Linked DNA regions of Homo sapiens. The protein of the gene in region 7 interacts with the protein of the main gene of each other region in a pairwise test. Each region holds a gene or a part of one and is shown on either strand. Other genes may lie near its edges.

The links.
Region 1: the proteins of ZNF620 (region 7) and POLE2 interact in binary tests that used the Homo sapiens proteins (3 or more experiments, as listed by UniProt).
Region 2: the proteins of ZNF620 (region 7) and MAP2K5 interact in binary tests that used the Homo sapiens proteins (3 or more experiments, as listed by UniProt).
Region 3: the proteins of ZNF620 (region 7) and PIBF1 interact in a two-hybrid assay, tested with the Homo sapiens proteins (one large-scale study listed by BioGRID).
Region 4: the proteins of ZNF620 (region 7) and ZFHX3 interact in binary tests that used the Homo sapiens proteins (3 or more experiments, as listed by UniProt).
Region 5: the proteins of ZNF620 (region 7) and ABLIM3 interact in binary tests that used the Homo sapiens proteins (3 or more experiments, as listed by UniProt).
Region 6: the proteins of ZNF620 (region 7) and IGFN1 interact in binary tests that used the Homo sapiens proteins (3 or more experiments, as listed by UniProt).

The regions. Positions count from the first base shown.
Region 1 is NC_000014.9:49,681,366-49,685,376, forward strand, and holds part of POLE2 (DNA polymerase epsilon subunit 2), read right to left. Parts: intron 2,329-4,011; coding exon 2,228-2,328; intron 1-2,227. UniProt on the Homo sapiens protein: Accessory component of the DNA polymerase epsilon complex. Participates in DNA repair and in chromosomal DNA replication.
Region 2 is NC_000015.10:67,643,597-67,647,607, forward strand, and holds part of MAP2K5 (dual specificity mitogen-activated protein kinase kinase 5), read left to right. Parts: intron 1-2,634; coding exon 2,635-2,703; intron 2,704-2,791; coding exon 2,792-2,873; intron 2,874-4,011. UniProt on the Homo sapiens protein: Acts as a scaffold for the formation of a ternary MAP3K2/MAP3K3-MAP3K5-MAPK7 signaling complex.
Region 3 is NC_000013.11:72,784,732-72,788,742, reverse strand, and holds part of PIBF1 (progesterone-induced-blocking factor 1), read right to left. Parts: intron 1-4,011.
Region 4 is NC_000016.10:73,037,805-73,041,815, forward strand, and holds part of ZFHX3 (zinc finger homeobox protein 3), read right to left. Parts: intron 1-4,011.
Region 5 is NC_000005.10:149,140,030-149,144,566, reverse strand, and holds the start of ABLIM3 (actin-binding LIM protein 3), read right to left. Parts: upstream 3,075-4,537; 5' UTR 2,913-3,074; intron 2,837-2,912; exon of another isoform or gene 2,559-2,836; 5' UTR 2,472-2,558; coding exon 2,459-2,471; intron 2,452-2,458; exon of another isoform or gene 1,778-2,451; intron 1,135-1,777; exon of another isoform or gene 969-1,134; intron 1-968. UniProt on the Homo sapiens protein: May act as scaffold protein. May stimulate ABRA activity and ABRA-dependent SRF transcriptional activity.
Region 6 is NC_000001.11:201,193,435-201,197,445, forward strand, and holds part of IGFN1 (immunoglobulin-like and fibronectin type III domain-containing protein 1), read left to right. Parts: intron 1-719; coding exon 720-839; intron 840-2,404; coding exon 2,405-2,544; intron 2,545-3,783; coding exon 3,784-3,883; intron 3,884-4,011.
Region 7 is NC_000003.12:40,512,339-40,516,349, forward strand, and holds part of ZNF620 (zinc finger protein 620), read left to right. Parts: intron 1-63; coding exon 64-177; intron 178-3,521; coding exon 3,522-4,011. UniProt on the Homo sapiens protein: May be involved in transcriptional regulation.

The DNA.
Region 1 (4,011 bases), on a different chromosome or scaffold from region 7:
GGACTGCAAATCATAAAAAACTGGAACAGAGGTTTAGTTCATGTATTGGTGGCCCCATTCTAGCTTCTTTGGGCATGTTTCAACAGATGTGACTTTCCAAAAAAGAACATGAAGAAAGAGAGGAGGGGCCAGGTGTGGTGGCTCACGCCCGTAATCCCAGCACTTTGGGAGGCCAAGGTGGGTGGATTACCTGAGGTCAGGAGTTCAACACCAGCCTGACCAATATGGTGAAACCCTGTCTCTACCAAAAATATAAAAATTAGCCTGGTGTGGTGGCACGCACCTGTAGTCCCAGCTACTCAGGAGGCTGGGACAGAAGAATCGCTTGAACCCGGGAGGCAGAGGCTGCAGTGAACCAAGATGGCGCCATTGCAGTGAACCGAGATGGCGCCATTGCAGTGAACCGAGATGGCGCCATTGCACTCCAGCCTAGGCAACAGAGTGAGACTCTGTCCCGCTCTCACCAAAAAAAAAAAAAAAAAAGGGAGAGGAGGGAAGCAGTGTGTAGAAAGCAAATGCCTTGAAGGAGTTCCCAAACCTCTACCTTCCTGGGTCACCTTATGTTTCATAACTTTGGTATACTCAAGAAAAAAATGACCATCTTTTATAGAATGTGCTTTTCTTGAAATCCACTTATTCTTTTTTTTTTTTTTTTTTGAGACGGAATCTCACTCTGTCACCCAGTCTGGAGTGCAGTGGCATAATCTCAGCTCACTGCAACCTCTGCCTCCCGGGTTCAAGCGATTCTCCTGCCTCAGCCTCCCAAGGAGCTGGGATTACAGGCGCCTGCCACCATGCCTGGCTAATTTTTGTATATTTAGTAGAGACAGGGTTTGCCATGTTGTCCAGGCTGACCTTGAACTCCTGAACTCAGGCGTTCCCACCAGCCTCGGCCTCCCAAAGTGCTGGGATTACAGGTGTTAGCCACCATGCCTGGCCCCACTTATTCTTATCACAAGCGTTATATAATTTTGTATCAATGTCTATTTTCACCAGGTACAATGGCTCACGCCTGTAATCCCAGCACTTTGGGAGGCCGAGGTGGGCGATCACCTGAAGTTGGCGGTTCGAGACCAGCCTGGCCAACATGGTGAAACCTCGTCTCCACTAAAAATACAAAAATTAGCCAGGCATGGTGGCGCACACCTGTAATCCCAGCTACTCGGGAGGCTGAGGCAGGAGAATCATTTGAACCCAGGAGGCAGAGGATGCAGTGAGCCGAAATAGCACCACTGCATTCCAGCCTGGGCGACAGTGCAAGACTCCTTCTCAGGGAAAAAAAAAAAAAAAAAAAAAAAAAAGTCTATTTTCTACAGTTTGCTTTCAGTAAAATGCCTTCCAACTCTGTTTAGTGTATTCATTATCAGTGCATTAGTAGAATTGCTTTTTATTGAAAAGTTACTGTCTCTGCCCTTTAACTTAGACTTACAAAATTAAGTTAAAATGACTAGCCATTCTATTAAAAAAAAAAAATCCCTGAAGAAATCAAGAAGAGATGTCAGCTCTGTTTACTTTACTCTTCTTTTTTTCCTCCCAAACATTTAGGAGTTAATGACTTAAATAAGACATGGTAATAGCCACTAGGAGAGACAAAGTGACCATAAAGGACCAGATCAAAATCAGAAGCCAAGTGCAGGAAACATGGTGGTGACACCTCCACTGGGGGAAAGGAACTATAAAAGGGCCCTTGGGGATCATCCTGAGGTTCCAACTAAACTAAGGGTTTGGATGTCATCAACAGTTAAAATAAAAAAGGCCGGGTGTGGTGGCTCCCGCCTGTAATCCTAGCACTTTGGGAGGCCGAGGCAGGTGGACTGCGTGAGCCCAGGAGTTTGAGACCAGGCTGAGCAACACAGTGAAACCCCATCTCTACTAAAATACAAAAAATTAGCCTGACATGGAGGTGTGTGCCTGTAATCCCACCTACTCGTGAGGCTGAGACAAGAAAATTGCTTGAACCCGGGAGGTGGGGGTTGCAGTGAGCCAAGATAGCGCCATTGCACTCCAGCCTGGGCAACAGAGCGAGACTCCATCCCAAAAAAGAAAGAAAAAAAAATTAAAATAAACTAAAGGTATTACCCCTTGGGAAGAAATGCTACCATGCATACATCTTATAACACTGGGACATCTTAATAGTGAAGCCTCAACTTCAATTTAAATCTATACATCTAACTGAAGATGCAGAACTATATTAACAATTTAGGAGTTATCAGAAAATATTACTTACAGGGTTGCTTCTCAACTGCATTAATTATCTTTTCCAGTTTATCTTCAAGCTCTAATTCACTGATAGACTGAAGAGCTTCTGTGAGGTACTTAATAGCTTCACTAAGAAAAGGAAAGGAAAAATGAGGCAGGTCATTAGTAATTAAAGGCTAAAAGTTTTCTGCCAAAAAGCAGCAAATACTCATCAATCTGGCACTGAAAGGAAGAACCACTAACTGCTCTCTTCAAGTAGCACTTTATCTTTCCTGTGCTTTCTGAACAAAATCATCCTCCTATGCCTTGCTAACATAAAGCCTCAAATCACATCCTTCCTCTAAGAAGGCTTCCTAGACCAGCTCTACCTGCTGCAATCTCCCCTTTCTTCTGAAATTGTTAAAAATCACATTTACATATACCTTAGATCTGATATATTACATTAGCCTTTTATTACTTACTACCCTACATTTAAGGCAAGAGTCCATCTGTTTCAATGTCAAGCACCATATCCTGAACATAAGACACTCATATATTTAATTTGATAATGCACTTGTTCAAAGTAAATTCCAATAATCACTGTTTTCAATTGTAAAATAAGAAAAAAAATAGGCTTGGCTGTGCGCGGTGGCTCACGCCTGTAATCCCAGCATTTTGGGAGGCCGAGGCGGGCGGATCATGAGGTCAGGAGATCAAGACCATTCTGGCTAACACACGATGAAACCCCGTCTCTACTAAAAACACAAAAAATTTAGCCGGGCATGGTGGCGGGCGCCTGTAGTCCCAGATACTCGGGAGACTGAGGCAGGAGAATGGCGTGAACCCGGGAGGCAGAGCTTGCAGTAAGCCGAGATCGCGCCACTGCACTCCAGCCTGGGCGAGAGAGCGAGACTCCGTCTCAAAAAAAAAAAAGGCTTTAAAAAACTATGACATTTGAATATAATCATAGAAGCAACACTCATTAAAATCACATGAATTTGTGTTATACGAAAGGAGAGGTTGGCACTCCACTTGACAAAGATGGAAGAGGCCCTCGGGCCTGACAATACACATATGGTAAGGCACTGCCACCTGCTTCATGGAGTCTGACCATCATTAAAAAAAAAAAAAAAAAAAAAAAATCATGGCTGGGCACGCGGTGGCTCACGCCTGTAATCCCAGCACTTTGGGAGGCCAAGACGGGCAGATCACGAGGTCAGGAGATCGAAACCATCCTGGCTACCACGGTGAAACACCATCTCTACTAAAAATACAAAAACAAAATTAGCCAGGCATGGTGGCGGGCGCCGGTAGTCCCAGCTACTTGGGAGGCTGAGGAGGGAGAACGGAGTGAACCTGAGAGGCGGAGCTTGCAGTGAGCGGAGATCGGGCCACTACACTCCAGCCTGGGCAACAGAGAAACTCCATCTCAAAAAAAATAAATAAATAAAATAAAATCACATTAATTCCTTACCTAAATCCCAACAATGATCAGAATGAACATGATTAACTAGTTACATGCCACTACATGCCATTCTGTATTTGTAGCACACTTTATACCTCACATCAATATTATTGCTGATTACAATATTAAACAATTAGCTAATTACATGCCATTCTGTATTTGTAGCACACAATTTAACATTTCACATATTATTGTTATAGCCATAACACTAATTGTTCTATATATTGGGTTGCTTTATTAGTTGTTTTGTGTGTAGGTGTTGCATCTCTCAAATTTATTATAGATAACTGAGAACTGAATTATAGATAACTTTAAAACTGTAACTTAGAACTCTGTGCCATCCTTCCACAGAGTTCTAAATACACTTG
Region 2 (4,011 bases), on a different chromosome or scaffold from region 7:
CCACCACACCTGGCTAATTTTTTGTATTTTTAGTAGAGATGGGGTTTCACCGTGTTAGCCAGGATGGTCTCGATCTCCTGACCTCGTGATCTGCCCGCCTCAGCCTCCTCCCAAAGTGCTGGGATTACAGGCGTGAGCCACCGCGCCCAGCTGCAAACTCTTGATAGAAACCACCTATGCCTTTTTTTTCCCCACCTTCCGCTTCCCCAAATCAACGCCTGGCCAATGTCAGGACTATAAAATGTACTTTAGAATTGTCCTTTTCTTTCCTTGCTCTATTAGCAGTTTATAATGCATAACTTATGCTTTTTTCTTCAGTATGATTGTATATATATTCTTCAGTTGTAATACAAAATGTAATTCAAAGTTGAATGCTACATAACTACACTATCATAGTAATTCTGAATGTTAAGTTTTTATCTAGAAATGTCTAGAGCCAGAAACTCTGCCACAAATCATAAAAATTGTTTTCCACCTATTCTATTCTCATCACTGCCTTTTAAAAGTAAAAAACAAGCTGGGCACGGTGGCTCACGCCTGTAATCCCAGCACTTTGGGAGGCTGAGGCAGGTGGATCACCTGAGGTCAGGAATTCGAGACCAGCCTGGCCAACATGGTGAAACCCTGTCTGCGCTAAAAATAGAAAAATCAACCGGGTGTGGTGGCAGGTGCCTGTAATCCCAGCTACTTGGGAGGCTGAGGCAGGAGAATGGCTTGAACCCGGGAGGCGGAGGTTGCAGTGAGCCAAGATCGCGCCACTACACTCCAGCCTGGGTGACAGGGCAGGACTCCATCTCTAAATAAATAAATAAATAAATAAAACAATTACTCTTGAATTAGTTTCACTGACATGCTTAGTAGAATTTGAACAGTATGGTCTTCTTTCTTAAAAAAATATGTGTTTGAAATAAACTAGAATTTATTCTAGATAAGTTTATAAATATTTTATATTTATGGGTTATAAATCACTGTGGGTAATATCACTCAGTGATTGATATTTTAAATAAACCATAAAGTACTGAAAAGCCCATGAGACTGAGTCCAGAGGAGGGGGTCCTACCATTCCCAGGCTCTGTGGCTCCCAGGAGGGAAACGTGGTTTCCTCCTCACTCAAAAGAAGGGAGTTAATGAAATAAGATTTCTTCAAGCTTTAACTTTCTGTAACAGGATTAGCAAAGAACATTACCTGACTGGAAAAAAAAAAGATGATATATTTTTAAAATTCCTTATTTCTCTCATAACTAAAAACCCCACTTAAAATGTTATTTTTGGCTGGGCATGGTGGCTTACGCTTGTAATCCCAGAACTTTGGGAGGCTGAGGTGAGCGGATCATTGAGGTCAGGAGTTCAAGACCAGCCTGGCCAACATGGTGAAACCCCATCTCTACTAAAAATACAAAAATTAGCCAGGTGTGGTGGCAGACACCTGTAATCCCAGCTACTCAGGAGGCTGAGACACGAGAATCGCTTGAGCCCATGAGACAGAGGTTGCTTGAACCCAGGAGACAGAGGTTGCAGTAAGCCGAGATCATGCCACTGCACTCCAGCCTGGGTAACAGAGCAAGACTCTGTCTCAAGAAAAGAAAAAAGTTATTTTTTGGCCAGTTGTGATGGCTCATGCCTGTAATCCCAGTGCTTTGGGAGGCTGAGGTGGGCAGATTGCTTGAGCTCAGGAGTTCGAGACCAGCCTGAGCAACATAGTGAAACCCCCATCTCTACCAAAAATGCAAAAAATTAGCTGGGTATGGTGGCACACCTGTGGTCCCAGCTACTTGGGTGGCTGAGGTGGGAGGTTTGTTTAAGTCTGGGAGGCAGAGATTGCAGTGAACCAAGATCGCCCCACTGCACTCCAGCCTGGGTGACAGCATGAGACTGTGTCTCTAAATAAATAAATAAAATGTCATTTTTATTCATCATCCTCTCTGCTTATTGCCTAGTGTCTGATCACAAACCACAAGATAGTTCTTTTTTTTAAGAGACAGGATTTCTCTCTTTCACCCAGGTGGGAGTGCAGAGGTGCAGTCATGGCTCACTTCAGCCTCAAATTCCTGAGCTCAAGTGATCCTCCCACCTCAGCCTCCCAAGTAGATTGGGACCACCCGATCATACTACACACAGGTAATTTTTTTTTTTTTTTGTAGAGATGGGTTCTCGCTATGGTGCTTAGACTGGCCATATACCCCTGGCCTTCAGGTACCCTTCCACCTCAGCCTCCCTTCCAGAGTGCTGGGATTACAGGTGTGTGCCACTGCACGTAGCCAACATAATTCTTTTATATTGGTTTGAGGGTCATTCCTATGCTCCTCTTTTGAAAATAGCCAATGTGGCTAAAATAGAGTGCATAAATTAAGAGTGTTATAACTTAACTGACTTTTAAAGCCATTACTATTGACCTTTGAGACCTGGCTTTTTTCTTTGGTCCCATCAATCACTTCTGTACCACCTCCCCCAGTATAGAAGGACAAAAGGTTAGACAGATGCAGATACAGCTTGTATTACTGGGAATTATAGTGGTAAGAAGAAGGAGGTGGGGAAGAATAAAGGAACTACCATGTTTTTAGTTCTTATATTTCATAGTGATTATAACTAATATAATTAGAAGATTAAAAAATATTAATACCTTTCTATATTTAGGTCATACTACTAGATATTACACTGGAACTTCAGAAGCAAATTATGTCTGAATTGGAAATTCTTTATAAGGTAATTTTTTCATAATTTTTATTTGTAAAGCATGCCTATGGTATTGACTTGCAGGTTTATAACTACTTTTGTCTTATTTTTGTTACAGTGCGATTCATCATATATCATTGGATTTTATGGAGCATTTTTTGTAGAAAACAGGATTTCAATATGTACAGAATTCATGGATGGTGAGTTTTCCCTTTTATAATACTTTTAAAATGATTTTTAGAGTATATAGTGCTTTAAAACCTGGTTTTGATATAGATATCAAATAGAATTAAAGATAATAAAATATGCTAATAATTACCTCATTTATACTCTAAGATTATTTCAGTGTTAGGGGTTCCTGGGGTTAAATATTTATAGCCGAACTGTAATTTTAAGAATTGAACTTCACTTTTATTGAAAATTTAAATAGAACAGATTAAATGCTAGTCTAATTGGTGGTTTGATATTTGATTCTTTTGCACAATCTGTCTTTACTTGCAAAACAGATGTTCTGTTCTTTTAATGTTTCAATAGCCAAAACAGATTTTCTTTTAAAGAAATCTATTAACCCAATGTCCTGTGTCTTTCAGAAAGAAATCGGTTCTTAATTGCAAGATAAGAAATTGTTTTTCAACACAGCTGTTTAGCCAAGATGTGTTTAATTTTCTTTGGACTTTAGCCCTTTCCTTCCCTCTCTATTTTTTTATTCATTTCTATTTTGGTAGTTCTTTCTTGACCTGAATATTACGGCAAAATACAGATTTCTAGGGACATATCAGTGAAATGATGTCATCATTATTATTATTTACCAATTTTAAATCTAAGCAGTCTTTAAATTTTACATATTCAGTTTTCCATAGTCTAGTCCATTAAAACACAACTTAAGAAAATATTGTTAGTTCCTTGTGGAGATTCTCAGTACATTACTAAAGCAATTAGTTTGTGCCCTGCAAAACTTTAATGAGCCAACATTGGTACCTTGATACTGTCATAAGGTGTACAACATGCTCTAAATTAGTTATAGTAGAATGTCAAAAATTAAAAATCTTACAGCCATATAGGTAAGTATGGTAACTGTGGAGACTGACCAGAAAAAGTGGATTCATTGAGCCAGTACATGTTACTGTGTTGTAACTTTTATCATTCTTTCTTTGAAGTCTTCAATTTTTCAGTTCTACTCAAACATTTTTGTTGAAACAGGGCACGGTGGTTCACGCATGTAATCCCAGCACTTTGGGAGACTAAGGTGGGAAGATTGCTTGAGCCCAGGAGTTTGAGACCAGCATAAGCAATATAGTGAGATCTCATCTTTACAAAAAAATTTTTAAAAATATGGCC
Region 3 (4,011 bases), on a different chromosome or scaffold from region 7:
ACAACATGTCCAGTTAGCTTCCCATCCCTTGTAGGTAGGGGTGGTCATGCTATACAATGTTAGTCAATTGAGGCCACTGGCTTGAACTTCTGGAAGAACTCTTTAAAGAGGACTGACTCATTTGGCACATGCCCCCTTTTCCACTATCCTTCTCCTTATTACCACCTTTTACATGTACACAATACTGGAGGCAGATAAGCTATCTTATGATTTCAGGTGAAAAGCATATGTTGAAAATAGCTAAGGTTAAAAGGAGCCTGGGTTCCTAATGCGATCAAGGAGTAATCACTTGAGGTCTACTAAAATACCTATTTTTGGATTTTTGTTATACCAAAGAAACAAAATCCTTCTCTTGCTTAAGCCATGGTTTCCAGGTCTCTGTTACCAGAAACCACCATTTTTCAAGTCTCTGGTATTAACTGCTGAACTTAATCCTTGAAACCCTGGGCAGTTGGTTCAATCTCTTTCCAAAATAGAAATACCTATAATATTTATTAACAGTTGACTATTCAGGACTACTTAAATGCTTCCAATGACAGGAAGCTCAGAAACTTAAGATCAGGCCATTTCAATGTTAATAGCAATAACAGGCTTACACTGAGCAGAAATCTACCTTTCCTGTGACTTCCAACCATTATCATGGAGCTATAGTCTAGTGAGGAAAATTTATTTTTCATAACGTTAGCATACGATGCTCAATAAGCTTTGGAGAATGAATGACCAATTAAAAATACCTTTCTTTCAAGACCTAGGCTTTAAGTTTCCTGCCCAGGCTAAAAAGTGTATGGCATGGCTGGGTGCAGTGGCTTCACACCTGCACTTTGGGAGGCTGAAATGGGTGGATTGCTTGAGGCCAGGAGTTCGAGACCAGCCTGGCCAACATAGTGAAACCCCCATCTCTACCAAAAATACAAAACTTAGCTGGGCGTTGTGGCACGGGCCTACAGTCCCAGCTACTCGGGAGGCTGAGGCACAAGAATCGCTTGAACACAGGAAGTGAAGGTTGTAGTGAGCTGAGATCATGCCACTGCACTCCAGCCTGGGCAACAGAGTGAGACTCTGTCTCAAAAAAATTAAAAGAAAAAAAAAGTATATGGCAGCACTACCAAATTGAGCCCCTTTCTTCTTCACTTAAAAATTCAGAGAGGATGCTACCAGATAGATTTGAATCAAATACCGCGTGGTGTTACCAGATCCATCAGGCTTTTGGGGACCCTGTTCATTTCAAAATACCCCATGAACCTTCTTTGCTTTCTTCTAGAGCTGGACCTCATTGAAACACCAAGAAAACAAACAGCTCTAACACCAGGAGTCCAATATACTTCTGAGTCCTCACAATCGACCAGAGGGACAAAATTCAGTGGGGTGTACTAGCTTTAGAATCACTGCTCACAAGAAACAGTGTAGCACTTTGTTCATCTGGAGTGCTTCACACATAAAGACAAAAATAAAGACATAACTAAACATATAATAACACATACAAATAAAGGTGTTATTTTAAAACATATAAAGAAATATGTCACATACCAATTTATACATAAACAAATAAGTGAAAAAATATATATCATGTGTGTAGTGCTGTTTGCCTGTCTAAGGTGTTATTCCCAGGGCATGTAAGAAGTAAACATATATATACACACATACACACATTAACATACATATACATATTCTTTAATAAAAATATTTTTTAAATATTCTTTCATCAACTCCAGACTCACACTTTCTCACATTTTAACATCTCTAAAATTGGAATGCATTTTACAATCTAAGGCACTTAACAATTCAACTGGAAGTGTTTAACCTTAGCAATGTATGTAATGATGCATCTTACAACAGAGGTGCTTTAGGTTCAATAAATTATGGAAGGCTAACTCTACAATAGGTATTTCTTCATATATTTGAGAGCAAACATCTTATTCCTAAAGAGTCTTCAAGCAGAGAATCCTGAGTGCTCGTATGATAGAGAAAAAAACTCTACTAATATACAGCAGGGCAGCTATTTTGGAGATAACCTGGCAGTACACTTAGTTAAATGAAGGAGACATTTATATATGTCAAAGACATGCTCACAGAGGTCCAGAAGAGAAATGTCTAATGCTGCATGTGTTGCAAGGAGCTGGAGGCAATCTGGATGCCTAGCAATGTAGGAGTAGAAAGACTGGTAGACGCACACAAAGAATTACATAAGAGTTGGAAGCAAAGGACTAGATGTATACAAAGTAATAGATAACTTCAAAAACAGTGCTGAGTAGGAAAAAAGAGATGAGAACTAAAACAAAGCATATAATTTACATTTCTGTAAAGTTAAAAGATACACATTCTCAAGAATACATGTAAACAAAACATTAAAATGTTTGCATTAAGAAATGGAATGAGCTATAGGAATGAAAAGAATAAATACATTAGAAAAACAGCAGCCTTTCAGGGATCAATGATGATTATGTGTCAAACTCAGGAACACGACTATTGCAATCTTCTACATTTTCAGTCAAACTAGAAAACCACAACAAAAACTACACTAAGCACCATGGAAGTAGAAAAATAATAATATTGTGCTGAGTAAGTATAGCTACAAATAAAATAATATGTAAATAATAAGTTTATTATTAGTATACACCAAGCATCTATGAGCTTACATACATTGATTAATCCTCCCGATAATTCCACGGAATAAATACTATTATCATTTTATAGGAAATCACGGAATAAAAACATTAAGGAATTTAGTAAGGCTGGAATTCAAAACCCAAACTGTGTGCATCTAGAACTGTAATTTGGATTTGTTACACTAGAGAGCCTGTCATGAATCAACCAACATTTCTATAATATAAAGCTTACACCTAAAAAGAAGCAAAGCCATTGACAACCAAGGACAATGCAAGTTGAAAACAAATAATACAAGAGGTGGCTGAACAAAATGTAAGTCTGGATATGGTATACAGGTGGCACTTAAAAAAATACTTGTTGACTGAGTGGGTGAATTAATGAATGGGAGATAACCTCAGGTTTCTTCAATGAGTTGCACTAAGGTCTGGAGAGGTGAAGGTAGATGGAGTTCATGTGAAATGCAAAAAGAGTAAGGGAATAGGGATGGGAAACCACTGGATGCATGGATAAACTACCAAGTGACCTAGACTAGGTAGGTGACTGTATAGGGTACCTAAAAGAAAGTGTTTGGAGCTTCACTTGTGTAGAGTATAGGCTTTAGACTTCCTAGGTTTGAATCCTATCTGGCTCTATCACTTTCATCTGAATGGCCTTGGGTATGCTATTAACCACCTAGTGGCTTTGTTTAATCAGAGCAAAATGGGGTTCAGTCATTCATTTAAGAAATAGCTGGGCACTTAATTTGTGTCAGGCACCGTTCTAAGTGCTGGAAATACAACCATGAATACAAAAACATCCCCGTCCTCATGGACCTCATAGTCTATTCACAGACAAATAACAAACAAATTCAGTCCGATGGCCATAAAAGGCACAGAAAATGAAAGGGATGAAACAGATAAGGATGCTATGTTAGTTGAAAACAACAACGGCTAATACGTCTTGTGTGCTTATTTTTTTTTCTCCCCTCAAAATTTGTATATTGAAACCTAATCACCAATGTGAGTAGCAGGAAGTTGGGGCCTTTGGGGTGATTAGGTTATAAGGGTAGAACCCTCACTGTTGGGATTGGTGCCCTTATAAAAGTGATCCCAGAGAGCTAGCTGGGCATGGTGGGGAGCACTTGTAATCCCAGCTACGTGGGAGACTGAGGCAGGAGAATTGCTTGAACCCAAGAGGTGGAGGTTGCAGTGAGCCAAGATTGTGCCACTGAACTCCAGCCTGGGTGACAGAGCAAGACTGTCTCCAACAACAACAACAAAAAACAACAAAATACCTCATATGTTAGATTTTTTAAATTGAGCCTACAAAAGTAATTTATCCATATCTACGTTTAAATCACTCCATATTTCAATACTTAAATTATTATTATTATTTTTTTGAGATAGGGTCTCACTCTGTTACCCA
Region 4 (4,011 bases), on a different chromosome or scaffold from region 7:
CACCCACCCAAAAAAGATAAAATAAACAAACAGAGCACCACCGGTTAAGCTATAGAGCCAGGATTCAAAAGATAAAGTGAGACCAACACACAGCCATGACTACCAGCTTGCCATAAATCGTAACTGGCCCCAGGCATACGGTTATCTGGGAAGCTGCACACCAACTTTTAAAATACTCTTCACCTTATCTTTAAGCCCAGTCAAACACACACATACATCACCCTTCTTAGATCTCGGCCATTAGTATTCCATTTAGACTTTCCAAAACAAGGTCATCCCAGAGGGTCCTTCCCCTCTTTCCAGTCACAGCTGTGGACTTTCATCCCCTTGTCCAACAAAAGGGACCTTGTACACAAAATTAACCTGAAGCATTAGTCTGTGTGGTGCGAGAGTCCACGGGGCCCTCGGGATATTGACTCCCCCACCCCCCCAACTATCCAGGCTCAGCCCAAAATCCTGTCTAGAGGGCTTCCCCACTGTGGAGGCTGGGGGAGCTTCCCTAGAGATTAGAGACCCTGCCCCTTCAGAATCCGCTTCTCAGCTGCAGCTGTGCAGCCAAGGAAGGCCTTACCTTTCAGAGAATAAACAGAAGAAAAAAACTTCCTCCCTGACTCAGTAACAGTAGAAAACGACCTGACGTCATGGCTGCAAAGGCCCAGAATCATCTGAGAACTAAGCCATCCAATATGACGGCCACAACTGCACGCGGCTTCTGAGCACTGGACATGGGGCTGGTTCTGAGCGTTGAGACCAGAACATCATGGTGAAATCGTGGGTTGCTGAAAATATCTGTTTTAAAGTTAATTCCACCTGTTTCTTTTTACTTTTTATGAATGACTACTAGGAAATGTACAATTACATATAAGCTTGTACTCTCTCTCTCTCTCTCTCTATTGGACAGCACTAGAGAGGTGCAAATGTTACCACCTCAAGTGCTAGCACATTACCATGCTCTAAAAGGAAAGACTCTTCCTTTTTATTACTATTATTATTATTATTATTATTATTATTGAGTCGGGATGTCACTCTGTCACCCAGGCTGGAGTGCAGTGGCACAATCACGGCTCAATGCAGCCTCTACTTCCTGGGCTCAAGCAATCCACCCACCTCAGCCTCCCGAGTAGCTAGGAATACAGGCGTGCACCACCACGCCCGGCTAATTTTTGTATTTTTTTTGTAGAGACAAGGTCTTGCCATGTTGCTAAGGCTGGCCTCGAACCCCTGGGCTCAAACCTCTGGGCTCAAGAGATCCTCCTGCCTCAGCCTCTTGAGTGGCTGGGACTACAGGCACATGCCACCGAGCCTAGCTAATTAAAAAAAAAAAAAAAAAGTTTGTAGAGACAGGGTCTCCCTATGTTGCCCAGGCAGGTCTCAAGCCCCTGAGCTCAAGCAATCCGCCTGCCTCTGCCTCCCAAAGTGCTGAGATTACAGGCTTGAGCCACCACACCCAGCCCAGATTCTTCATTTTTAAATGCCAAAAAGACCAGTGTAAAATTGAGCAAACAGCATCATCTGGTATCAGGTGGAATCACATACGCAGAGGCTGCTCAACTCCCAGGCTGCAGTGAAGGTGTCTAAATGGGGGGAGTGGCCGGGAACCTGCCATTGTTTTAGACCAGGAGAAGCAAATGTAACCTCTATTTCAGGTGTTCTTAACTGGAGGCGATTTTGCCTCCCCAAGGGACAGTGGGCAATTCCTGCAGACATTTTTGATTGTCACATCAAGGGAAGAAGGTGCTACTGGCATCTAGTGGGGAGATGCCAGGGATACTAAATGTCCTACAATGCACAAGGTGGCCCACTCCCCCCAAAAACAATTATCCCCAAACATCAACAGTGCCAACACACAACCAGGAAGTGACCAGGCCTGAGATCCACCCAAGTATCTCTTTTTTTATTTTTTTATTTTTAGTAGAGATGGAGTTTCACCACGTTGCCCAAGCTGATCTCAAACTCCTGAGGTCAGGCAATCCTGCCTAGGCCTACCAAAGTGCTGGGATTACAGGCATGAGCCACCATGCACAACCCAAGCAAATTTTTAATACTCAGATATCCAGGAGCAGGAGGGGACATCCCTTTGCAAAATGGCTTCTCTCCAGAGCTCGGAACTGGTCATAAGTTTGAGCGGTATAAGCAATGTGAGGAAATGAAAATACTACTAATAATTTAAAAACTATAATCGCTTTGTCGCCAGACTGGGTTGAGTGTCAAGGGTTGATTATGTCTGGGCAGCTCTGTTTTTCAAGCTAGTAGGTAAACATGGGGCTTAAAACTCAAAGCAACATAAGGCAGGCTCCCCCACAAGCAAGAGTAGGCCTCTAACAGAGAGTCTGAACTGGGGGAGTCACTGGCATGCCCAGTTCACCATGCCTGACCACACAGGCTAGGCCTGGGTGCCTGTGACAGGCAACGGAGCAGCAAAGGAGCTGTGATGGGGCCTGCAGGTATAGGAAGGGGACAGGGCAAGGGACAGGCGAGGCCAAGACAGGAAGAGCGTGGTGCTGAATGAGAACAGCCCAGCCAGGCTGGGAGGCCGAGCAGGAGGGGGTAGAGGGGAGGCACATGATAATTAACTCTGCAAGTTGATAGTATTTGCATATAAATGCCTCCACAAATCACTACAAACAAGCCAGGACAAGTCAGGCCTATTAGCATACACAAGCCAGCCGGGGAAGGCCTCTCTAGGTGGGTCATTGAGTAGGCTGCTCACTTGGAGGGCCGCCTGCCAGCCTGGGGAGGGGGACAGAAGGGGAGGGCTGGGGTGGATGGGGGACACTGTAACTATTTCAGACTCTTTCACTTCTGAACACGGTTGCAAAGATGTCAAAAGGAGTTGGCTCTATTTCCACCCCATGGGGAAGAAGAGAATTGCTGGACCTTTTAGTTTATTTCTTCCAAGGTGGTAAGAAACGAAAGGTAGCAGAGGCCATCAGTAGCAAAGAAAGAAATGAAAAGGGCGTGGAGATGGCAGCCAATATCCGGAGAAGCTTTTCAGTATGTGAAGTGGTATGAAGCCCTGATTCCTATTTCATTTACTTCCCACTACAAATGTAAGGTATGCATTAGGCCCATTTTACAGACGAAAGAAGTGAGGCCCAAAGAGGTTAAATTACTGGTCCAAAGTCACACAGCTCAGGCCTCACCAGAGGGTGTAACACTGATGGCCTCAGCAGAGGGTGTAAGGCCCATAGCAGAGGAAAGAGCAGAGGCCACCTTTCCAAAGAGTGGGCTTTTTTGATTCACCTTTGCTTCTCCCATTCACTGTTGAGTCCCCATTTGAAGGGGATTCACAAGCAGTGCTCTGGTCCTCAGCCAGACCCTGCCCTGTTTTATTCTGTAATTATTTCCTACCTTCAAACAAACAATGAGGAAGACCACACCTCCCTCCAGTTACACATCTGGGAGTCCGCACCAGGATTTCCTCTGTCACCCAATTTTTCCACTGTCTGGACAATTTTTATAGTTTCACCAGCAAGGGCAAAATATATTGACAGTCCTTTCCCACAAGGTGTAAAAGTTCTCTGCTTTCCCCAAATATACCTCTGGATTTCCTATCTGTTGAAGGAAAAACCAGCTTCGACTGCCTCCGTTAAAAAAGGGTGTGCAGGGCTGAGGTGACCCTACTACCGTCATTTCTGCCATTCTTTACTTGAACAACATTTTTTAAGTGGGCAAAATACTATCTTATGAAAAACAAACCAACAGGGGCCCAGGTAACACACATTCATATAGTCAGTTACACAGACTGAAAGTCTTCATCAATGCCCATCTCAATTACGTTATCAAATAACATAAGGGGACACTATTCAAGATTCCATCAGAACAGAGATGGCATTTAAAAGCAGTCGCTTGAGTAGTGACACCAACCTCCTGCCGCACACACTGAAATCCATGAGCCTCTTCTAAAGTGTCCAAAAGTTGACCTGACACTTTAACGCTGATGCAGATACTCCACAAAAAAAAGCGGAGCTGTTAAAAGGGAAGCAGAAACCATTCCTCCAGTCAAGGCCA
Region 5 (4,537 bases), on a different chromosome or scaffold from region 7:
ACTAAATAAATAGAAGTGAAAGAAAAACTAAGCAAGAGTTTCTATTAGGGACAATATCAGGCATGAGGATCAAGTTAAGAATTTCACATCTCAAAGGGGAGCTTTTTTGCTTAGTCAGGTGACCCAAGGACCTCCTGCCAATGCCCTATCCATATCACCCTATGGCTCTGTTACTCCTTTTCTTGTGAGGTCTGATGTCTACTCTCTGCATTTGCAGACTCGTGGGTTTGGGAGGTACCTCCATGATGATGGAGTTAAGCCCTCAAAGCTCTGTGCTTGCTGTGTCCCCCAGGTGTCTGTTTAGAGAAGCACTTCCTCCTGGGGGGAACCCGGAGGGCTTCCAAGGCTGCTGAGCCATTCTCCTCTGTTCATTTTCCATTACTGCAAAATTCACACACTCTCCCTGCTTATAAAAAGTAGTGGCATTTTTGCCAGTCCTCATATTCTGCAGTATCCAACTCTATTGATTCTTTTTTCTTTTCTTTCTTTCTTTTTCTTAAAAGAAGGATAGTCTGTTTCCTTCTTTCAGGAATACTCAGTGTTACTAATAGGACAAGAGTTCCTTAGCATTCCAGAGAGAGAAAAGGGCAGAGTCAGTTGCCTGTTTCTTTTCTTAGTTCCTTGAAAAATAGATGAGCCATCTTTCTTTTCTGTCACTTAGTGGGAAAGGACTCTCATAAATACATTTTTTTTTCCTAGAGATAGTGAGAAGTGACAGGCAACTCACATCTTTATTTGCCTGAAAACATGCAAATGCAAACATGTGACCCACTAGCTGATAGAGGCTACAGGATTTTCCTCTTTTCCTGAGCCTGGTATGAAGCCAAAACACCATTCCAGCCTGTCAAAATCAAAAGGCAAAATTCTTTGGCTGTAAGAGGCAGAGGGAGTCCAGCCACACTCGCTAGCTTAGCATAGATATGCAATACACAAAGGAAGACAGCAGAGAGATGAATCATACAAATACGTAGTAAATAAATATATTTTATTTTCATCTCAGTAGCTTTTGCTTTTTTTTTTCTCTTCCATGCTAGGAGGTGGGGGTGGGGTGGGGTGTGTGAGGAAATAGTAGGTTTTGGCTGGATACAGCTTCAATAAGGTCTTGATAGTTCTGGCCTTGTTGCTCAGCTCTAGCTTTTTAAGAAAAAAAGTGTAGATTCTTAGATTAGAAGGCTTTCTTTTATTATTATTATTATTATTTTTTGAGACAGAGTCTCACTCTGTCGCCCAGGCTGGAGTGCAGTGGTGTGATCTCGGCTCACTGCAACCTCTGCCTCCCAGGTTCAAGCAATTCTCCTGCCTCAGCCTCTTGAGTAGCTGGGATTACAGGCCCACACCACCACACCTGGCTAATTTTTGTGTTTTTAGTAGAGACGGGGTTTCATCATGTTGGTCAGGCTGGTCTCGAACTCCTGACCTCGTGATCCACCTGCCTCTGCCTCCCAAAGTGCTGGGATTACAGGCATGGAACACGGTGCCTGGCCGATTAGAAGGCTTTCTAATTCAACCCCTCTCATCATACAGATGAGCAGTCTGAGATGCAGAGAGGGGACTGATAACAAAGTCATAGACCCAGGGAAGTGACTGTTCATAGGGGTTCTCTGGTTCAACAGCCCTATGCGATGCTGGAATAACCTAGACAGGCCAAGCTGACAAGAGGGCAGGAGAGTGAGTCTGGAACCAAGATATGCCCTCCCAGGTCACAGCGCTACATTGAAGAGAAACAGACTGTGCCTTCTTGAATTTCGGACTGCATTCTCAGTAGCTGAGGCCCTACCTGGCAGCAAAATATCTGGTCCTGGCTCTGCAAGCAGTTGTTGCCTCTGGCATGTTAGAGCCCTTGGCCAAAGGGCTGTTCCTGTCTTCTTGTTCTCAAGGATAGCTAACCAGCCTGCAGGTACATAGAGAAACCAGCCCTGGGCCCACCGGGCTGCAGGCACTCGGGAGCTGGATCTTTCACAATCTCCAGACCCAAAGGTGGCTTGGCGATTATTTGTTTATCAAACTGCGGCTTCCCAGCCCACTGCCTGCCCACACCCACCTACCCTCCCGCCTGCCCACAGGCCAGCCTCCCTGCTCTTCCCACCTCTGGGACAGGCAGGGCCCTCCATGGTTTTCCAGATGTGTGCAGGGAGTTCTCCTCAGAGCCCCCACAGTCAGACAATGGCCACACACTGCTTCCTAGGCCTTCCCAGGCAGTGCTAGAAGGAGACGAGCAGCCTTCCCAGGAGAGGCGGCCGGCGCCGCTGATAAAATATTGGCAAAATTATCACGAAAAGCCAGAGTCATGAAGCTATCCCTCTGCCAAGGAGCACGGAAAGCACCAAAAAAGAGCCTGGGGGTCATGTGTCCAGAGATGCCAGGCTTCCTTCCTCTTTCCAGGCAGCCCGAGCGCAGGCTCCCTCACCTCCCGCCCCCACCCCTGTTCCCATGGCAAAGGAGAGGAGGATCCACTTACTGCTAGTGTTCATGGTGATGTCTTTGCACTGGGTCTTTCATTCAATACGGAGGCCCCGGCTGCTTTTTAAATCTTCCGTTCTTCGAACCTCACTCATCACCTGGGGGGTGAAAAGGCAGTCCAGTGCCAGCTCTGTATCCTCAGGTGCTCTCTCTCCCTCTGCTGTCCCCTCTCTGTCTGGGCTGTAGCCCCTGGCCTTGAAGGCGCGTGGACTAATAGGCGCAGGTGAGAGCAAGGAGAAGGAGGCGGCAGGACACCGGCGCCCCGGTCCTCCTGCTCCTCAGATTGGAATCCCGGGCAGAAGTGGGGTTGGCAGCGCCTGCTCGCGCGCACCCCGGACTATTCCTGCCCAGCGGCTCCGGAGCCCAAAGGGGGTGTGGACCACAGGGAGGCAGGGCGGGGGCAGCGCGTCCCCGCCCGGCTTCAAGGAGCAGCGACCCGCCCCGGAACCCACCTCTCGGCCAGTGTCGGGAGCCAGAGGCCCCTGCCCCGGCCCCTGCGACTGATTTCATGAATCCTGGTCCTCGTCTGGGGTCTCGAATTCCAGGGCTAGCAATGCGAAATAGGGGAGCTCGACATCCATGATGCGGGCTCGCGGGTTGGCAGCGCAGGGGGCGCGGCCGCTCGCTGCTGCCACCTGCTGGACGCACCGGCGCGTGTCCGAGGCCCCGCCCCGCCGGGCTTCTGCCTGGGCCCTAGGGTGTGATGGGAGATGGACGAGGCCTTGTGAGATGGACGAGGCCTTGTGTCCTGGGACCAACGAGGGAGTGCTTGAGCGCTTGTTTTCCCTCCCTCGATCCTGGGGTTCTAAGGGCTCGACAATGATAGGAAAAGAAACATCATTAGGAGGGGCCGTGAAGGAAAACCTGGCTTTGCAGGAAGACAGTTTCCACCCGGCTCTGCTCTGGCAAGCTTGGCGCAGTCTAGGCTCAAGCCGGTCACTACCGTCTCTGCCTCATCTTTCTCAACTATGAATATGGCGTCTGGACAAGTGGATAACACGTAAGGGGCTCTTCCAGCCTCCCAGCGTTTATGTCCCCTCTTCCCTCACAGATTCCCTTTATCCTCTATCGCTGATTCATCATTAGAATTGTTTATTACCTCTTTTCCCCACGAGAATGTTAGCTCCGTGAAAGAATGGGTCTGTCCGTAGGGTTCACCTACAGGCCCCCAATACCTAGCACAGGGCCCGGCATATAGTGGCTACCAATAAATATTTGTTGACAGAGCAACCCAGACATTTTCTGGGTTTAATATTACACAGCCCTAAGAGTAGACTGCCTAGGCGCCCCACCCTGAAACACTTCCCCGTCTGAGGAGAACAGCAGGTATGTGGCCTCACAGGTCCACCCTAGTTTTCATATGGTCAACTAACTCTTCCCCCAAGTTGTTGTTGTTTTTTTTTTTTTTTTTGTAATTATGTCTTATACGTGTGTATTGTAGAAGTTTATATTCCAAAGTGTTTTAGTCACAATTGATTCAGTGGGGTAGGGCTCTTTACATTCCTGTGACTACTTACTCTGTCACTTTCTGAACCTAATTCATGATCATAGAAGCATGACTTTTGAGTGCTGAAAAACAAGACTGTGAGGGCACATGATCCTTGTCTATAGCATGACTTCAATTAGAGCATGTGCAGACTCAAAAGGCTGTGAACACTCACAGCCCCAGCTTAGACAAGGAAACAGGGTGTCAGAGAGGCTGGGCAACGTGCCCTAAGACACACAGCATCTTGTGGCAGAATCGGACCAGATCTTCTCACTTCTAGCTTGATCCTGTGTGAGAGTGGCTCAGTGCACTAAAGTCTGGGATATCAGTGTGAGATTAGATAGCTGCCCTATTAAAATTGGGGAAAGACAAATACGATGTTTTTATACAATGCTTTTAGATAAATACAACGTTTCTACCTTACACAGGGAGGAAAAAAAGGATATGGCTCATGACCCCGAGAGGTGATCAGGATTAAAGAATCTTTGGATAAACCTAAGGATCAATAGATTTGAAACACATTTGATAGATTGTTAAGAATTTTGTCCACATGTTCTCACTCATAAGTGGGAGTTGAACAATAAGAGCACA
Region 6 (4,011 bases), on a different chromosome or scaffold from region 7:
ATTTTATTTTATTTTTATTGTTGTTGGCTTTTTTTGAGACAGAATCTCACTCTGTTGCCCAGGCTGGAGTACAGTGACGCGATCTCAGCTCACTGCAACCTCCACCTCCCAGGTTCAAGTGATTCTCCCACCTCAGCCTCCTGAGTAGCTAGGATTACAGGTGCCTGCCACCATGCCTGGCTAATTTTTGTATTTTTAGTAAAGGTGGGGTTTCACCATGTTGGTCAGGCTGGTCTCGAATGCCTGACCTCAGGTGATCTGCCCACCTCGGCCTCCGAAAGTGCTGGGATTACTGGCGTAAGCCACCGTGCTTGGCTTTTTTTTTGAGTCTTGGCTTTGGGTTTTGATTTGTTTTCCTGAGTAAGGAGTGCAAAGCCCCCACACGAGCTCCTGCTTCTTGGCTTCCTGAGAAGGAGCCCTTTCTCACTCTTTCTTCCCAGCTTTTCCCCAGTGACACACTCAGGGTCTTCCTAGGGTGCCCCACCCACTTCCTAGAGGCTCCATTCACACTGCCAGAGTGTGTGCCACCAGATTCCCACTAGAGAATTCAAAAGCACTGTGCACAGGCAGGAGGTACTACAAATAATCCTGACCCAAAAGTAGGAGCGAGAAGGGGCTTCTTGCTCCTGGGGTGAGTGGGTGGATGCCCATTCTGTTGAAGGGCCACCCAGGAGGAAGAAGGTGGAAGGCCCCATCTCCTTCCCTCCTGCATTCTCCAGGAAAGCTCCGGAAGTCCCACATCCCTGGAGTGAGCATCTGGCAGCTGGTGGAGGAGATCCCTGAAGGCTGCAGCACGCCGGACTTTGAGCAGAAGCCCGTCACCTCGGCTCTGCCAGAGGGTGAGCCCAGAGGGGAGCTGCGGAGGGGAGGCAAGATTCTTGCTCTCCTACCTCCCAGGGGAGAGGGCTGGGGCACCAACCTTCCTGGGGACCCAGGCCCTATATCCATCACTAGGCCATAGCCCATCTCCCTCCTATCCTTGAGGGGGTATGTGCTTACCTGGAACCCTAGAAGTGACAAGAGGCCTGGGGAAAAGAGTGGATAAAGAGAGTGAAGAGACACCATGCTATTCTGGTGTGAGAAATATCTGGGGGGCAGGGATGGAAAAATGCTAAACTGGGGAGCAGGGAGAGGTTGTGGTGTTTCCTGGTCCCTGTCTCCTCACCTCAAAGCCACTGCTGCAGAGAGGCACTGTTAAAACAGTTAATTTGACTCTTCCCAATCCTCGCCTCCAGGCAGCAGCACCTGCTGTGGCTCACAGGCTGGGCTCAGGAAGGCCCTTCTAGAAGGCCACATAAGAAGGTGTCCAAGAAAGTGGTGGGAACAAAGGCTTATTGGGGAAAAAGTGGGAATTGGTGTTCTTTCCCCAACACACACCCTGCAATAAATTTTAGTTCATAGCATCCTGGTAATAAGAAAAAGAATGGTATTTTATTTTTCTAAATCTGGAACAAGGTAATGAGAAATTGGGAAGGGCCCTTGGGCCTTTGGTCTATATTGCTGTCTACTGAGATGTTCCTGGTGGGAGGCTGAGGGATTCCTTGAGGGCGGGCAGTTCCCAGGCCTCCATGACAGGCATGGAGCATGGGGTCTTTTCTGAGGCTGAAGCCTGTGTCTCAGCACCGGATCCTTCGGGCACCAAATAGTCACTCCTTCTCCTAGTTGTGATTCCTCCTCCCCCTAGAGAGTAGGAAGGGAAGCCAGAAAATCTCTTCTTTTTTTTTTTTCTTTTTTTGAGATGGAGTCTCGCTCTGTTGCCCAGGCTGGAGTGCAGTGGCGCAATCTCTGATCACTACAACATCTGCCTCTGGGGTTCAAGTGATTCTCCTGCCTCAGCCTCCCAAGTAGCTGGGATTACAGGCACATGCCACCAAGCCTGGCTACTTTTTGTATTTTTAATAGAGATGGGGTTTCACCATGTTGGCCAGGCTGGTCTCGAACTCCTGATCTCAGGTGATACGACTGCCTTGGCCTCCCAAAGTGCTGGGATTACATGCGTGAGCCCCTGCGCCTGCCCGGAACTCACAAAATCTCATTCCCTTCCTAGTCTTGGCAGAGCCTTCAGACTCCTTGCTCACCCACTCTCAAAGAAAAGCCCCTGTCCCCTAAAGCCCTGCTGGCCTCCCCTTTCACCAGGGCCAGTCCACCTGTCTCTTTCCCTCAAGCAGCCCAAGCTTCTGCAATATAGAAAGAGGAAGCACTGCCTTCTGGGTGCCTGGAATCTGCTGCTTTCCACCTGCGTATTCTGAGTCCTGAGTCAAGGGGACCAAGGCCTGGCATCCTTTTTGGAAGGGGCAGTTGAAATACCTAGATGAGGAAGACGATATAAATTAAAATTTAAATAAAGTATACAGTCACCCTCTCCCAACTTGTCAGTCTCCCTACTCGTCTCTTCCTGCTGCAGGGAAAAATGCTGTCTTTCGGGCTGTGGTCTGTGGGGAGCCCAGGCCCGAGGTGCGTTGGCAGAACTCCAAAGGTGACCTCAGTGATTCCAGCAAGTACAAGATCTCCTCCAGCCCTGGCAGCAAGGAGCACGTGCTGCAGGTAAGAACCGTAGCTCTTCCCCTGACCAGGGTCTACTCGTCTTTTCCCATCCCCTTGAAGGTCTCTTTGGCAGCCTCCAATCCCTAGAGGAGTAAGACATACTCCTCGTTGAGGTTGAATCCATTCAACTCCATCTCGTGACTCAAAGTTGCCTGAGCCAAGAATGGATCTGGCAGGCTTGCAGATACCTCTGCTGATAACCTGGGAGGTGGTGTAGACTGGAGCTTAAGAGCTCAAGCTCTGAAGTCAGACTGCTGGAGTTACAATCCCAGGCCCACCACCTTGGCTTTAGAAAGTCATTTTACTCTTTTTACCTCTGTCTCCTCATTTGTAAAAATGGGATAATAATAGTACCTACTTTAAGGAGTTGTTATGAGTTGTTGTTGAGATGGATCTCACTCTGTCGCCCAGGCTGGAGTGCAATGGCGTGATCTTGGTTCTCTGCAACCTCCACCTCCCAGGTTCAAGCGATTCTCCTGCTTCAGCCTCCCAAGTAGCTGAGATTACAGGCATGCGCCATCACGCCCGACTAATTTTTGTATTTTTAGTAGAGTTGGGGTTTCACCATGTTGGCCAGGCTAGTCTTGAACTCCTGACCAACAATGATCCATCCGCCTCGGCATCCCAAAGTGCTGGGATTACAGACATGAGCCACTGCGCCTGGCCAGGAGTTGTTATGAGGATGAAAGTTTTATGTAAAGTGTCTAGCTAGTGCCTGGCCTATAGTGAGTACTCAATCAATCTTGGCTAATCTGAGCAATATTATAAATACTAACCATGGGATACCTACTATGTGCCAGGCCCTACTATGTCCCAGGGGCTAAATATTTGACATAGATTATATATTTAATTCTAATTATTCACCACTTTTTTGAGGTATTATATTCCCATCTTACAAATGAAGAAACTGAAGTTGAGAGAAGTTAGGTAACTTGCCCAAGGTCCCACAGCTAGTAATACAGGACAGAGACTGTTTTCAGGCCCAGATCCATCTGACCCCAAAAAGCACACTCTTTCTACTTCGCTACATTGCCTCTGATGGCAAAGAATTGATACATCCACCCTCTGTCCCAAACCAGGTTTCTGTTTTGGGGTCTGTCTTTCCTGATAAAGACTGTGAGCTCCATGAGGACAAGGACCATGTCTTACTCACTTTATACCCCCAACACATAGCCGTGTCTAGTAAATGGAGGAAGGGGATGTGGTAGCCCTGTTCCTCTGCCCTTGGCCTCTCTGCAGATCAACAAGCTGACAGGCGAGGACACGGATCTGTACCGCTGCACAGCAGTAAATGCGTACGGAGAGGCCGCTTGCTCAGTGAGACTCACTGTCATCGAAGGTGGGCTTTTCCCTGAGTTTGTCTCATCAGTGCACAGGGCAGAGACCCACAGAGGAATCAGATGCCCCGTGGCTAGTGAGGGAGGGGAGGGGAGGGAAGGGAGGCCCATCCAGGCTGCTGCCGCTGCT
Region 7 (4,011 bases):
GCTGCAAGAGGATCCTGGTTCCTGATTCCCCTTACCTTTTCCTGTTTCTTTCTCCCTGGGCAGCATTCCCATTCACCACGCCTGTTCTGGTCTCCCAGCTGGAGCAAGGGGAACTGCCATGGGGCCTCGATCCCTGGGAACCTATGGGCAGGGAGGCTCTCAGAGGTATCTGTCCAGGTGAGCATGAGAACCCACTAGCTGCCTTTTTGGCTTGGCTTGCTTTCTTGTTTTCACATTTCATTGTGCAAGAAGTGTTTCTTCTCTTGGGAGACTGTTTTTGTTCCTGTGGAATCATTACATGTGATTCTCTGAGTTCATGGTGGTAGCCTACCTCAACTGGGGAAGGGCCAGTCTCTTTTAAGACAGGAATGACTGTAAGATTTCTTTGCATATTCGTCTTTGCCTGTCCTCCTCACAACCTGCCAAGGGAGACTGTCTGATTGGGCAGCACTTAAACCAGCTCATTTCTTCTCTGTCACATGAAAACATTTTATTTTTCTGCCAGTTTGTTTTTGCAAAGATGAGGATGTCAGCCACCTTTGGAGGAAAATAGGCTTCTGGCAACATGGCTGGCCATCTGCATATCATAGGCTACATTGTTTAAGCACTGACTTAAAGAATAAAAAGTTTGTTTTTATAATGGAAATTTTCAAATATATGCAAACACCAGCATAATGCACTCCATGTATCCTTCATCCAGCTTCAACAGTCACAAATATCCTTTGATTCTTATTTCATCTTTCCCCCACAGATACTTAAAAAAATTTCTGAAGCAAAATTTATTGTAAATTAAAGGTGAATAACTTTCTCACTTCGATGGCTATTGATATAAGAATTAAAAATAGGCTGGGCATGGTGGCTCATACCTGTAATCTCAGCATTTTGGGAGGCTGAGGCAGGTGGATCACTTGAGGCCAGGAGTTCAAGACCAGCTTGGCCAACATGACGAAACCCCGTCTCAACTAAAAAAAAAAAAAAATATATATATATATATATATATATATATATATATATATGGCCAGGTGTGGTGGTTCATGCCTGTAATCCCAGCACTTTGGGAGACCGAGGTGGGTGGATCACCTGAGGTCAGGAGTTCGAGACCAGCCTGGCCAACATGGTGAAACTCCATCGCTACTAAAAATACAAAATATTAGCATGGACGTGGTAGCACGTGCCTGTAATCCTAGCTACTCAGGAGGCGGAGGCAGGAGAATCGGTTGAACCTGGGGAGTGGAGGTCGTAGTGAGCTGAGATCATACCATTGCACTCCAGCCTGTGGGCAGCAAGCCACCCAGGTGCCAAGGCAAGAGACTGAGGGCACAAGCTGTTCCAGTATAATAAAGAAAATATATAGAATAAGAATAATTATGCTAGAAATAGATTATAGATATGATTATATATTAATATTATTAATCATTAGTTTGTAGCATTACTCTTTATTCCAATATTATAATAATCTCTGTTCTACAATTATAACCTAGGAAAAACCAGGCCATACAGAGATAGGAGCTGAAGGGACACTGTGAGAAGTGACCAGAAGACAAGAGTGTGAGCACTCTGTCAAGCCGGGACAGGGCCACCAGAGGGCTCCTTGGTCTAGCGGTAATGCCAGTGCCTGGGAGGGCACCCCTTACTTAGCAGACCTTGGTCTAGCGGTAGCGCCAGTGCCTGGGAAGGCACCCGTTACTTAGCAGACCGGGAAAGGGAGTCTCCCTTTCCCCGGGGGAGTTAGAGAAGACTGCTCCACCACCTCTTGTGGAAGGCCTGACATCAGTCAGGCCCACCCGCAGCCATCCGGAGGCCTAACCATCTCCCTGTTGATGCTGTGCTTCAGTGGTCACGCTCCTGGTCCACTTTCATGTTCTGCCCTGTACACCTGGCTCTGCCTTCTAGAAGAAATAATGATGTAAGCTGTCCCCTCTCTCTCTCCGCCTCGGCTACCAAATAGGGAAGGGCCCCCTGTCTGGTGGACATGTGACTCGTGTGACCTTACCTATCATTGGAGATGACTCTCACTCCATACCCTGCCCCTTTGCCTTGTACATAATCAATAACAGCACGGCCAGGCATTCAGGGCCACTACCAGTCTCCGCATCTTGGTGGTAGTGGTTCCCTGGGCCCAGCTGTCTTTTCTTCTATCTCTTTGTCTTGTGTCTTTATTTCTACCATCTCTCGTCTCTGCACATGAGGAGAAAAACCCAGAGGCCCAGTAGGGCTGGACCCTACACCAGCCTGAGTGACAGAGCGAGACTCTGTCTCAAAAAAAACCCAAAAACATCAAAAATTAGCTGGGTATGGTGGTGTGCACCTGTAGTACCAGCTCCTGGGGAGGCTGAAGCATGAGAATCACTTGAACCCAGGAGGTGGAGGTTGCAGTGAGCCAAGATTGCACCACCACACTCCAGCCTGGGTGACACAGCGAGACTCTATCTCAAAAATAAATAAATACATAAAACATAGTATATTTTTTAATCTTTCTTATTCTGCTTCACCCATTCTCTGCCTGTGAAAATTTTCTGTGCTCTTCTGCAGAGAATGCCCATTACTGATCCACCCCCAAGTCTTGAGTTTAAGTTGTACCTTTCTGGATGTGACCTCAGGACCCTACGTCATCTGAGTAAAAATATTTTCTGAACAATTTTTTGTGAATGCATGCAGGCTGAAGATTTTACTTAGTCTGCAAAAGGTTTTGATAGTGGAGGGAATATTTCTCTTTGGTTTTCCCTTATTATCATGTGAGTTTAGTAGTTCACTTTTCAAACTGTTGTATTAAACAAATGCACAACCTATGAGACCTTTTAGGAAAAATGGCAAGCATCGTTACCAGGCCCTCTTTGGGACTTACATTCACTCTTGGAAGAGTTCTTCACATTTCCAGTGCTTTTTGGTTTTAAAGGCAAGCCTCCAAACCTTCCTTTCTCCTGGATGCTGTGGTGGTTGCCATGCATGGCATCCTCAACCACTGCATGGGAGCCTGCTGCTTTACTAGAGCCAGCTTGATGGTAGAGATCAGCTCTCTTTTCAAGGTTATGACATGCATGATGTCTTTTAACAAGCATCTCTTAAGGAATCTCAGCCTGTGGGACCTGTTGTAGTGCTTGAACTGCTCAGCCTGCCCCTTCTCTAATCTTGGGAGTCTTCCTCTCACTTATGGATTTCCATTTGTTACTTTTTTTATGTTTGCATCTTTATCCACCTCATTCATTTTTCTCTTAGTCTTTCTGCCCTAATTAACAGTCTTTGCAGTTTTCTGGTTTTCACACTGTTTATGGGAATGCCTCCTGGCCTTGCTTCCCTCCCGTCTCATAGAGTTTTCATGTCCCTTGCAGGGCTCTGTTGTGTGGTGATCTTAGGCAGCCATCTTGTGAGCATATTAGAAAATATCCATATATTCAGGGCAAATTAGAACCACTTGATTCTGTTTCTTCTTCAGCACAGATATTGTGTGTGTGTGTGTGTGTGTGTGTGTGTGTGTGTGTGTGATATCAGGGACTGACATTTGTATTTTCTTTTTGTGATAGGGGATGAGGCCAGAACTGAGAAGGAAGGATTAACTCCAAAGGATCATGTGTCCAAAGAAACAGAGTCCTTCAGACTGATGGTGGGGGGCCTGCCAGGGAATGTTTCCCAGCACCTTGACTTTGGGAGCAGCCTAGAGCAGCCACAAGGTCATTGGATAATTAAGACAAAGTCAAAGAGGAGACATTTCACAGATACCTCAGCCAGGCACCATGAGGCCTATGAGGTCAAGAATGGAGAGAAGTTTGAGAAATTAGGAAAAAATATTAGCGTCAGCACACAACTCACTACAAATCAGACAAATCCTAGTGGTCAGATATCTTATGAATGTGGACAATGTGGCAGATATTTCATTCAAATGGCAGACTTCCACCGACATGAGAAATGTCACACTGGTGAAAAGTCTTTTGAATGCAAAGAATGTGGAAAATACTTCAGATATAACTCATTACTTATTCGGCATCAGATAATTCACACTGGAAAGAAACCATT